Linked DNA regions of Homo sapiens. The protein of the gene in region 1 interacts with the protein of each later gene in a pairwise test. Each region holds a gene or a part of one and is shown in the gene's direction. Other genes may lie near its edges. The genes, in order: LIMS2, RCHY1 and SPRED1.

The links.
Region 2: the proteins of LIMS2 (region 1) and RCHY1 interact in binary tests that used the Homo sapiens proteins (3 or more experiments, as listed by UniProt).
Region 3: the proteins of LIMS2 (region 1) and SPRED1 interact in binary tests that used the Homo sapiens proteins (3 or more experiments, as listed by UniProt).

Annotation. Positions count from the first base shown.
Region 1 is NC_000002.12:127,654,837-127,658,589, reverse strand, and holds part of LIMS2 (LIM and senescent cell antigen-like-containing domain protein 2), read left to right. Parts: intron 1-373; exon of another isoform or gene 374-560; coding exon of another isoform or gene 561-628; intron 629-1,027; coding exon 1,028-1,187; intron 1,188-3,693; coding exon 3,694-3,753. UniProt on the Homo sapiens protein: Adapter protein in a cytoplasmic complex linking beta-integrins to the actin cytoskeleton, bridges the complex to cell surface receptor tyrosine kinases and growth factor receptors. Plays a role in modulating cell spreading and migration.
Region 2 is NC_000004.12:75,479,749-75,483,501, reverse strand, and holds part of RCHY1 (RING finger and CHY zinc finger domain-containing protein 1), read left to right. Parts: intron 1-835; coding exon 836-964; 3' UTR 965-3,753. UniProt on the Homo sapiens protein: E3 ubiquitin-protein ligase that mediates ubiquitination of target proteins, including p53/TP53, TP73, HDAC1 and CDKN1B. Mediates ubiquitination and degradation of p53/TP53; preferentially acts on tetrameric p53/TP53.
Region 3 is NC_000015.10:38,255,757-38,259,509, forward strand, and holds part of SPRED1 (sprouty-related, EVH1 domain-containing protein 1), read left to right. Parts: intron 1-3,753. UniProt on the Homo sapiens protein: Tyrosine kinase substrate that inhibits growth-factor-mediated activation of MAP kinase. Negatively regulates hematopoiesis of bone marrow.

The DNA of each region.
Region 1 (3,753 bases):
GGGCCCTGGGGCTGGACTGATTGCGGGCCTGGCTCACTGTGGGCTTTTCCCCTGTAGTTCGCATTTCACCCCTCCCAGAAGGAAACCCACCACTGACTCTGGGGACAGGCAGTGCCCAGTATGGATGAGATTTGCTCCCCCTCACCACACTCCCGTCTCGTCTCAAAGATTCATACTCTTGTCTTTTTTATTTATTTTTTATTTTGAGACAGGGTCTTGCTCTGTTGCCCAGGCCTGAGTGCAGTGGCACTCAGCCTCGGCCTCCCAGGCTCAAGCCATCCTCCCACTTCAGCCTCCAGAGTAGCTGAGACTACAGGCTTGCACCACCACACCTGGCTAATTTTTTTGTTTTCTTGTATTTTTATTAGAGATGGATTCTTGCCATATTGCCCAGGCTGGTCTCGAACTCCTGGGCTCAAGGGATCCGCCCACCTTGGCCTCCCACAGTGCTCTGGATGACAGGCTTGAGCCATTCTGCACACGCACCCAGCTACCCTCTTGCCTGCTCTGTGTTTGGGTGGTTATGTGTTTATTGGAGGCAGTCAGTTTGAAACTAACTCATGGTGCAGAGGATGGAACCATGGAAGACTGAGCAGTCTGGATTCAAGTGTGGACCCCGCTCTGCTGTGTGAGCTTGGGCAAGTTACTCAACCTCTTTGAGGCTTAGGTCCCTTTTCTGGAAGAGGCCATAATAATAGTAGCTGCAGTATTGCCCTGGGGATTAAATGAGAGTGTGAATACAGAGCCGCTCACCTGTGCTGGGTGGTGTTCTGTGTGCGAGACTCTCTGGTCCCTGAAGAAGGGGTAATAGGGGCCCAAGTGGGAGTTGACTGGGCCCCTGACACCCCAAGGGGTGGGCACTACAAGCACTGAGCAGCCTGGACCCTGGGTTAGAGCGATTTTCCTGATCCTGCAGAGCGTCTTCACTTTTTAATACGAGGTGTGTCTGTCGGGCGCAGGCCCCCGCGTGTGCCCCATCTGCACCCCTGACCAGCTCTGACTCACTCCTCCTGTCTCCTGCCCCCAGCAATATGTCGGACGCCTTGGCCAACGCCGTGTGCCAGCGCTGCCAGGCCCGCTTCTCCCCCGCCGAGCGCATTGTCAACAGCAATGGGGAGCTGTACCATGAGCACTGCTTCGTGTGTGCCCAGTGCTTCCGGCCCTTCCCCGAGGGGCTCTTCTATGAGGTGAGGACACTACTGAGGGCTTTCTCAGACCCAGCTCGGAGTCTGCCCTCTATGAGCGGGTGGGCCGGGCTCCATGCAGTGGTCCCGACTGGTGACAGGGCCAGGTCTGGAGCCAGCCCAGAACCAGGCTTGAGCTCCTGCACGGGCCCATCCTTCACCTGTGAGATGTGAACAGCACCCCAGGTGCCCTGGGTGCTAACAGAGAGCCACCTTTCACCAGCCTCCTCTGGGCAGATGCTGGGCAGGCCCTGGGGGCAGGAAGAGCCTGCCCTGGTGGTGCTTGCCCTCCCTGGGGACTAGACAGTGAGCACAGCAACCGCATGGCCCACCAGCTGGTGCTGATGCCCTGGGGGTCAGGGTTCCCGGGGTGGGGTGCGGTGGTGCTCAGGGAAGGTGAGGTTTGGGCACACCTGAGGGGAGGGAGACATACTGGGCAGAGGGCACCGCATATGCACATACCCTGTGGTGGGAGAACATGGGGTGTATGGAGAGCAGTAGGAAGACTGGTGTGATGGAAGCCGAGGGCATGAGAGGGAGAAGGCCAGGAGCTGAGGAAAGGGAGGTGGATCTCGCTTGGCCCCACGGGCCTCTACGGAGCCATAGGCTTCCCCTCTGCAAGAGGCAGGAGCCACCTCGGGGTGTGGAGCAGAGGAGTCACACTATCTGCTGACATTTGAAAAGGTGACCTGGCCGGGCGCGGCGGCTCACGCCTGTAATCCCAGCACTTTGGGAGGCGGAGGCAGATGGATCACCTGAGGTCAGGAGTTCAAGACCAGCCTGGCCAACATGGTGAAACCCTGTCTGTACTAAAAATACAAAAAATGAGCCTGGCATGGTGGCAGGTGCCTGTAATCCCAGCTACTCGGGAGGCTGAGGCAGGAGAATCACTTGAACCTGGGAGGCAGAGGTTGCAGTGAGCCGAGATCGCGCCATTGCACTCCAGCCTGTGGGACAGAGCAAGACTCCATCTAAAAAAAAAAAAAAAAAGAAAGAAAAAAAAAAGGAGGCTTGTGGCCGCTGTGCTGAGGAGAGGATGTAAGGCGGGGCAGGAACAGAGGCTGGGCCAGGAGGCTGGGGGGACCAGGAGCTGAATTAGTGCAATCACCCAGATGAAAGTGAAGGGGCCCCCACCAGCTCACAGGAGCAGTCGTTAAATCATCAACAATCTTGGGAGCTGGTTGGGCAACAGAGTTATTGTTTAAAAATTAAATTATATCAGCGTACAATGGGATACAATTTTATTAAAAACAAAGGTAACAAATACTCAAAGCATACCACTTGCTAATTATTTTGTTCCACTTTACTATCGTCTATGCTGATGGGGTTATTTCTGTCCATTGTGCTGGTGTGGCCACTGCACATCTCCCCTCAAGTCCACATCGATGTCATGTTGGCAGCCAGGAGTTGGCCATGACGGGAATATTCACACCATGGACACTGGCAAACGCCCCACAGCAGGGCCTGCCTCTGCGCCCCAGAGAGCTGGCTGTTGAGCATTTACCAGAACATCACTTGTGCTTGTGGTGGCGGTGGTGGCCAGGGGTCAGATGCTGGCTCTGTTTCAAGGTAGAGCTGATGGGACTGGCTGGTGGATGGATGTGGGGCCTGTGGTCCGCCTGGCAGAGCAAGAGCCGCTGTTCCTCACAGTGTCTTCAGCCTCCTGAGGAATGCTGTCTAAGTGTAGAGGCAGCGGGAGGGGTGGGCAAAGCTCTAGGAGGGGTGGCCATATGCCCAGAACAAAGCCTCTCTCTCTCACACACAGCAGGTGCCCAGAAGATTTTCATTGCTGAAAGAGTTTAAGCCCTTCCTGACTCTACAGGTCACTGGGTAGGGCTATATCCAGTTTAGTCTAATAAGACACTCATTTTAGAGAACAGGGAAAAACCAATTAAAAAACAGAAAATACAATTGTTAGAGGAAAGCAGAGGCAGGCTTTGGCCCCGCTTGTGGCCAGCACAGGGGCCCTCGCTGGCAGCTGCCGCCTGGAGGGTGTGCACACTGGCTCCTGCTGGCCGCAGCCCTGAGCTCTTCCCACTTCCCCGTGCCCAGGCCCTTCCTGCGTTCCCTTCCTTCTGTCTCCTATACCCGGGTCTTCATGGCCTCTGAGAGAGCTGGATACTCCCACAGAGAAGGTATACGAAATAGGACCAAGTGACACTACACTTCAGACTGGATCTCATCCCTCCTGGCTTAAAACCGCCTCGCCCCCAGCCTGTTCTCCGGACCAACAGGGTCCAGATCCTCAGTAGACACCAGTGGCCCTTTGACAGGTGGCCTCACGGACCTCTCCAGCTTCCACGGGGGCACCTCCCTTTGCACCCCACCATCCCAAAAGGGCCAGTGTCCTCTCTGGCCAGGCCTGGGACCCACTGCTCCAGCCTCAGCCCGGCATGCCCCTGCCTCAGTGCCTCATCCCCTGCTGTCAGGTCCTGACCCAACAAGGGCCTGGGCTGCTCATGGGGATGATAGGTGGTTTGCTTGTCCTCTCTCTGCGACCCCTTTGCAGTTTGAAGGCCGGAAGTACTGCGAACACGACTTCCAAATGCTGTTTGCTCCGTGCTGTGGA
Region 2 (3,753 bases), on another chromosome or scaffold:
GAACATTTTTATCATCCCAAAAAGGAAACACTCATACCCATTAGCAGTCATTCCCTAACGCCCCAGGCCTAGGCAACCACTAATCCACTTTCTCCATTTAGATCATATTTTTTAAATAATTATTTTCCAAATTATAATTTAGAGCAAATTTGGAAATTTTCTGCTTATTATAGTGTGACTATTCAAAAACTAGTGCTTTTCTTGCATAGTAATGTATTGATTTTCAGGTTAACACCTTTGTTATTTTTCAGGTTCTTACTTAGCACTAGAAGAAATTAATTCTTAAACGGCATCTTATTGTTATTGTAGGGATGAGCGAAGAGCCTCTCTGTTTACTCAATTTTAGGAACACTCTTTTTGGAATTTAATTCATTCCTAAGGCAGAGAAGACAGGGAACAGTATACTAAACCTAAAAAATAAGCAAAAATATTATTTGTGTAAAAATTTTGGTTTTATTAATTGAGATACATTTCTGACTGAAAAATAATGAAATCATGTTGTTATTTTGAATTATAAGTATCAGGTATTCATCTGATTATGCCTAGGTTAATTTTCTTGCTTGTACTATTTATACTATTTAATATTTGGAAACTATTTTAAAATAAGCTTTTTTTTTGCTCAAATCTGCCTTTTCATTTTCTGAATTCAGAGCCACCTTAATAGCTTTTTAGAGTTTTCAGTGAAAAAATAAGAAGAAATTTCTACTTTTGGAAATTTTTAGACTTATGTATGTATTTTCACATCTTTAATATGATTTTCAAGGGATTATGAGTAGACAATGCTACTTGTATTTATAAGGTTTAAAATACTTAATTTGAATTAATCTCTTTTCAGATTCTCTGCAATGACTGTAATGGACGATCCACTGTTCAGTTTCATATATTAGGCATGAAATGTAAGATTTGTGAATCCTATAATACTGCTCAAGCTGGAGGACGTAGAATTTCACTGGATCAGCAATGACGAGCCTACACAGTACTGGAGAACTTGGCATTTTCTGATATAGAAAAAGGCTTTCCTTGGTATCGTGTTATCATGTGTCGTCATCTATGCATTAGAGTTGATGTGTTTTGTACTAGTGTCACAGCATAAAATCATATTACAAGTACGTAAGGATTCAGGGTCTCTTGATAGACTTATCATAGCTCTATATTGAATGAAAGCCACTGTGCTTGTGTTTTGATTGGAAATTCCTTTAGTGTCAGTTTTTTGGAAGCCAATGATGTTTGCCACTGATACATTCATAGAAGTGTATTATATTTTCATGAAGCTTTGCTTTAAGTGACACTACGCGTGCAGTTCATTTCTAGTTCTTGATAGAACTGCACTTAATTTTCAGTAGTAGTCTTGACTTTTTAAGGGCTGTGTTATATTAAGTTCTCCCTTACTGTTAAAACCTAATTAAATATGCTTTAGAATTTTCTAAGACAGTCCTCTGGATCCTCTAAATGTGAATTTTGATGTAATAACTGCTAATAAAATTATATTGAAACTGTTTTATAGAAAGTTTTTTCCAAAGTTTTCTATGTTTGGCTCAATTAGGGCAGTATCATCAGTTCTATAATGTAAAAGAAATTTTCTTTCTTTTGAGGTATTCCATAAAAGTAGTTGGGAAAATTATTATGTAAAATAATAAGACTCTTCCAAAGCCTTAATAAAAACATCAACATTGAAAACAGTTTTTTTTAGGTTGCCCAAAATTATTTCTTCAAAGAGTCATTCATTCCTTCATTTAGCAAGTATTTATTGAGCAACTGCTATGTGGCAGATATGTTTCTAGATGCTGTAGAGACAACAGTGAACAATAAAGATAAAAGTCCTTGTCCTCACAGCAGTACATTCTATTGTTCATCATATTTGATCAATGTACTCATTTTTCTTTATGCAAGGAGTGGATGTCTTATTGTAAATGAATAGAATATTTCTTCCCTAAGCGTGTGAAAATAGGGGATGGATGAGTGGGAAGGGCATGGGATATTCCTGGCAAGATCTCTGATTTCATAATACTTTTTTGGGCTCATGTAGTGGAATTAAATATACCTCTTACTTCAGGAACAAAGTTAACAAATATGTTTGATGATCCAGCCGACTTTGACACTGTTATCTCCGTAATAGCTTTACCATTAGGCTAGGATGTAAAATGTACATTTATCAGTTGATAAGTACCTATTGAGCACCAGTTGTATTTCCAACTTTGAGCTATTTGAATCTTCTTTGAATAAGGAAGTTAGCCTTTTAACTAGAAAGCCTAAGAGTTCTGGCACATTTATTTCTTCTTTTGTTGAAATTTATTCACCTAGATAAAGGCAGCAGTTTGGGACTCAGATCTTTATTTTATCCCACCTTCTTGTCTTCTGTATTCCACTCTTCTTATGTTCTTTCCCTTCATCTGTTTCCTTGGCCTGGCCAGAGCAGCAGTGCTGATCTTCATTTGGGAAAGGATGTTCCTGGGTATTACCAATTAGTATACAGATAAGTAAAGACTAGTTTTCCAGATCTAATACTTTTTTTTGAAGTGGTTTTGCTCTGTCATTTAGGCTAGAGTGTAGTGAAGTGATCGTAGCTCACTGCAGCCTTGACTTCCTGGGCTGAACTGATCCTTCCACCTCAGCCTCCTGAGTAGCTGGGACTACAGGTGTGTGCCACCATGCCCAGCTAATTTTTAATTGTTTTGTAGAAACAAAGTCCAGGCTGGTCTTGAACTCCTGGGCTCAAGCATTTCTCCTACCTCGGCCTTCCAAGGGCTAGGATTACAGGCATGAGCCACTGTGCTTGGTCCAGATGTATTACTTTTTATGTTTGGTATTATTCTGCCAAACCAATCATGTTATTGTTTTTAATCATTGAATCATTGGATCTTTAAATAGGAGTGAGTATATAATAATAAGGCTCTTCTGTTTTCAACATCTGTGCTGGGTCATGCATTAGCATTAATTACTACAATGATTCTGTGGGGTAAGTGTTGTCCTCATAGACAAGAAAGCTGAGGTTTAGAGGTTAAAATGACACATTGGGGGTAAATAACAGACACTATATGTTGGAGTTGGGAATCAGATCCAAGTTTGACTCCAAACCCACTTTTACCACATTGCTTTTGATCTAAACTTCTATTTTGCTAAAATACCCCTCACAGCTAGTCATCCATATCATTGAAGCGCTCATGATTTGATAGATTAACCTTTCATTTTTTTAGGTGACTCTAGTTAGAAAGTCTTATTTCACAATCTGATTGTTTCTTTAACTTAGGATCCAAACATGTCCAAAATAATGCAGAGTACATATGCAATCACTCGTTTATGCTGTCTAGTCATGCACTTAAAGCAATTTTCAAATGTACTCAAAGTCTCTAGGCTTCGGTACCCAGGGTTGCTTCAAGTATTTGTTCATGACACGTCAACTCGATGATTAAAATCCTTCAACACTTCTCATTCACAATAAGAATAAAATCTACATCCCTTACCATTCAGTATGCAAAACTTAAAATACATAACTTTACCCTTAAATATTTTTTCTTTCTCTGACTTCATAAGTATAGGTTATACCTCTATAAGAAAGAAGGTAAAAAACTCTCAACAATCCCTTCTTTCAGAGAGAACTACTGTTAACATTTTAACAGACAACTTCATTCTTTTCCTATTCTTTTTTATAATGCTTACAGGAATGTTAAATACTTAGACAGATCTTAAGTACACTAGAATTATCTGTCCCTGAAATAAGTTAGGTTGCCCTGCCGCAGAATTTGTATCTATAGT
Region 3 (3,753 bases), on another chromosome or scaffold:
GTAACATGGATTTTATTTGGGCCTTACATTTTTTTCCCTTTTCTCTTTTTTAAAGCCATTGCTCATAGGGATTTAATTACAGTAGGGACTATTTTTAACATTCTTTAGTTTCTTTTTCACCTGATTTCAACCTTCAAGAAAAGTGAAAATCACCAGTTTCCTGGGAAACCATTAACCCTTTCTAGATAGCCATTGTGGTAAAATCCAGTAGGGCCTCATTCTGAAATCCTCGAGTACATGCTTATTATTTGAAATTAAAGTTTTATGTAGAGAAATGGATAACTCCTAGGCTGACTGTGAGAATATATTTAATCAAGAATTAGTGGGGGATCTGTTATGTGTAGGGCTTTGCTTTAATGCCAAACCAAGTAAGGAAGAAATAAATTAGAATAAAGCATTTCTTAGATTGTTTCACATTTATGTTTAAAAATCTTACTTTTCAAAAATAGTAAACATACTCTAGAGCAAAAGAATTTGTGTTATAAATAGTAGAGGAAATAGCCACATACATGTTTGTTTTGTAGGTAATTTGCACAGAGACTGTTTAATACTCCAGTCAAATGTTTCCGATAGATATAACTGTACCATATTTTACATTATTGAATTAGCCTTCTAAATAGAGTTTTAAACATTTAAAGGCATATTATATAATACTTAAGAGTCTTTGTCCTTTGGTATTGAGTGTATATAGCACTGCATGTCCTTTTGTCAATTTGGCCAAAACATTTGGAGAAGTGAAGTAGCTGAAATAATAAGCATTTGGCTTATTAGGTTCACGTTAGCCAGAAACACTTCCTGTGTCAGTATTAGGCTTTCTAATAGCAAGTTGGGATTATATTAGATTTTGGAATTAGGTTAACTAGAATTAGACCATGTATGATAAACGTACTATGTTGTAATCTGAGTTTGAACTGTTTTTCCGTAAATAGAAAGCAAATTTTTATGGTTATATCATTTAGTGCCTCATAAAAAATATACCCAGTGGTGAGTTATTTTTGATAAGTGTAAATAAACATATGTTCACCCCATACATTTTACGTATGTATATGTATGTACACACACACACATATATATATATATAAAATTGGAAAACATTCTAGAAATAAATGGAAGCACTGGAAAGCTGTGTAATATTAAGCCATCTAATGTTTGTTTATATAGATGTGGTGTATACATAATATAAAAATTTGCTTATTATTCAGTTGGCCTGTGTAAAAATCAGCTAAATGACTGCATACTTGCTTCAACTTAATTTCCCTCTGCTTTCTCACTTAAAACTTTATGATCCTGAATTATATATTTTAAACACATTATGATACCATACCTAGAATTCCTCTCCTTACAAACTTTTGTAAATTTGTCATTTTTCCCCAAAAGACCTTCTCTCTTCCCCTCTTTCAACACTCTGTCCCTCTATGTTGCCTCTGTACTTCGTACATATGTATATTAGTTTTAAAATCATATAATATTGTGATTATTTACTTATTTCTATGACCGCTATTCTGTAATTCCCTACTTTTGTTTGTATGCCTAGCACAGTGCTTGATGGCAAATGCTCTACAAATGTGGTTGAATTAATGGAGCCTCATTACCTCATTTTTTTGTTTTCTCTGAATTTATGCATTTGAGATCATTAGCTGTATTAGAAAAAAAGGCCGAAAAAGAGTATGGGAAAAGTAAATTATTACCCGTTTAAGAAGGCTTACCTTTTTTTTTAAGAAAAGACAAAAATTGGCCTCATTTTTGACATGTTTTGTTTCTGCAAGTTTGAGAAATAACTTAGATCAGGCTTAAAAACTGTCCTAAAGTGCTGTTGGGATGTTTGGATGTGCTTGGCCTCTGAGTTATGTGGTGTATCTGAAGACCCGTGTTATATCCACAAGAAGGTAGACATTTGTGTGTCTGTCTTTTTTGGCATAGGAAGCTCAAAATTTAGGAATATGTATCTCCAGCTGTTTATCAGTTTTAAGTCTTTAAATTGCTCTCCCTTTCCCCCATGGTTCCACATTAGTGCCAAGGGTGAGGAACTGACTAGGGATAAAGAAGTGAAATTGATCAGGAAAGGGTAAACAGCAGCAGATTCCGTGATTTTATACTGCAGCTGTTGGTGACTGAGAACTGCCTAAGGGGAAAGTGTAACAATTTAGCCTTTTCTCTGGTGTTGTATAACTTGAACTTGACTAGTCTTACCCAGTTTGGGGAAATGATTGGTAAAGACAAGCCTGCTTTTCTTCTCCATCTTTCAGTAGGAACAGGAACGACATTAAAAATGCCAATTTAAAAAATGCTTCACCCCATGTAAGAGTAGTAGTTTATTTCAGATAATGTACAAAATGATCTCTAAAGTGAGTAATAATTTATTTGCAATTCTGCCATTAAATAACAGCTGCTAAAATTTTGGTCTACATGGAAACCTTTCTTATGATGTTGGTGATGAAACATATTCATTTATTAGATTTTTACTGTATGCCAAGCACTGTTATAAATGCTTTATGAAAGCATTATGTAGTTTATATATATACATGTGTTTCTTCTCAGTGGAATGGAATTGCACAGTGGGTACAATTGTAGCTTAATGTGAATATTTTCTTAAGTCGTTAAATATTCTAGAATATAATTTTTAGTGGCTACATTATGTTCAGTGTATGATATACATTAGTTGTAATCAGTCTCCTATTGTTGGATATTTTAGTTATTTTTAAACAATGTTGCATACCATCCTGAGTTCTGTCTCCATCCAGATCTCTTACTTTTCCCTTGAGATAGTCTAAGAATGGAGTTAAAAGAGAGGAAAATATTTAATTTTATTCTTTCTGTTAAATTGCCCTCTAGAAAAGAAGTATTTAGTATATGAGAGTGCTTAAACTTTGAAATGTCTGTACAGTTGTCTGAATTTTTCTTTGCCAATTTTGAAGGTAGAAAATGAAGTCTTATTTTTTAAATGCTTTATGGTAAAATAAAATTGATTTAAAAACTTATTAGGTTGTTTTGCGGTAACTAGAATGTTTTTAAATGCTATATTATAAATAGAATTTAAGTGCTCATGTAAAAGCCATTTGTACATCATTTATTTAACTCTTACCATCTTCTGTGCAGTATGGTATAGTCTAAAGAACACTGGACTTGAAATTGGGAGATGGATTTCTTTTGTAGCTATTTTTAATTTATTCTCTAATCCTGGGCTCTGTAGGCCTCAGTTTGCTGATTTATAAATTAAAGAATTTGGACTAAGCATCATATGTGCCCTTCCTTTGTTGATGGTGTATGATTTAGACTTTGTTAATTTTATTATATTGTTATTTTTGACATACTTAAACAAAAGACTTAAGAGTAGAAGTGGTAGGAAGATTAGGTAAAAGCATGCATTTTGAACAATTAAGATACAAAATTTGGAAACAATTGGTATATTAATAGTCTTTTAAGACTTACTTTGGGCTTAATAGCCATGTATCTTTGATGACACAAAATTTTGTACTACTCAATTTTGTTTTTTATGTATTTATTTATTTTAAAGAGGCAGGGTCTTGCAGTGTTGTCCAGGCTGGAGGGCAGTACAGTGGTATGATCATAGCTCACTGCAGCCTTGAACTCCTGGGTTCAAGTGATCTCCCACCTGTGCCTCTTAAGTAGCTAGGACGACAGGTGTGCCACCACACCTGGCTAATTTTAAAATTTTTTGTGGTGATCGGGTCCTGCCCAGGCTGGTCTCAAATTCCTTGGCTCAAGTGATCCTCTTGCCTTGGCCTCCCAAAG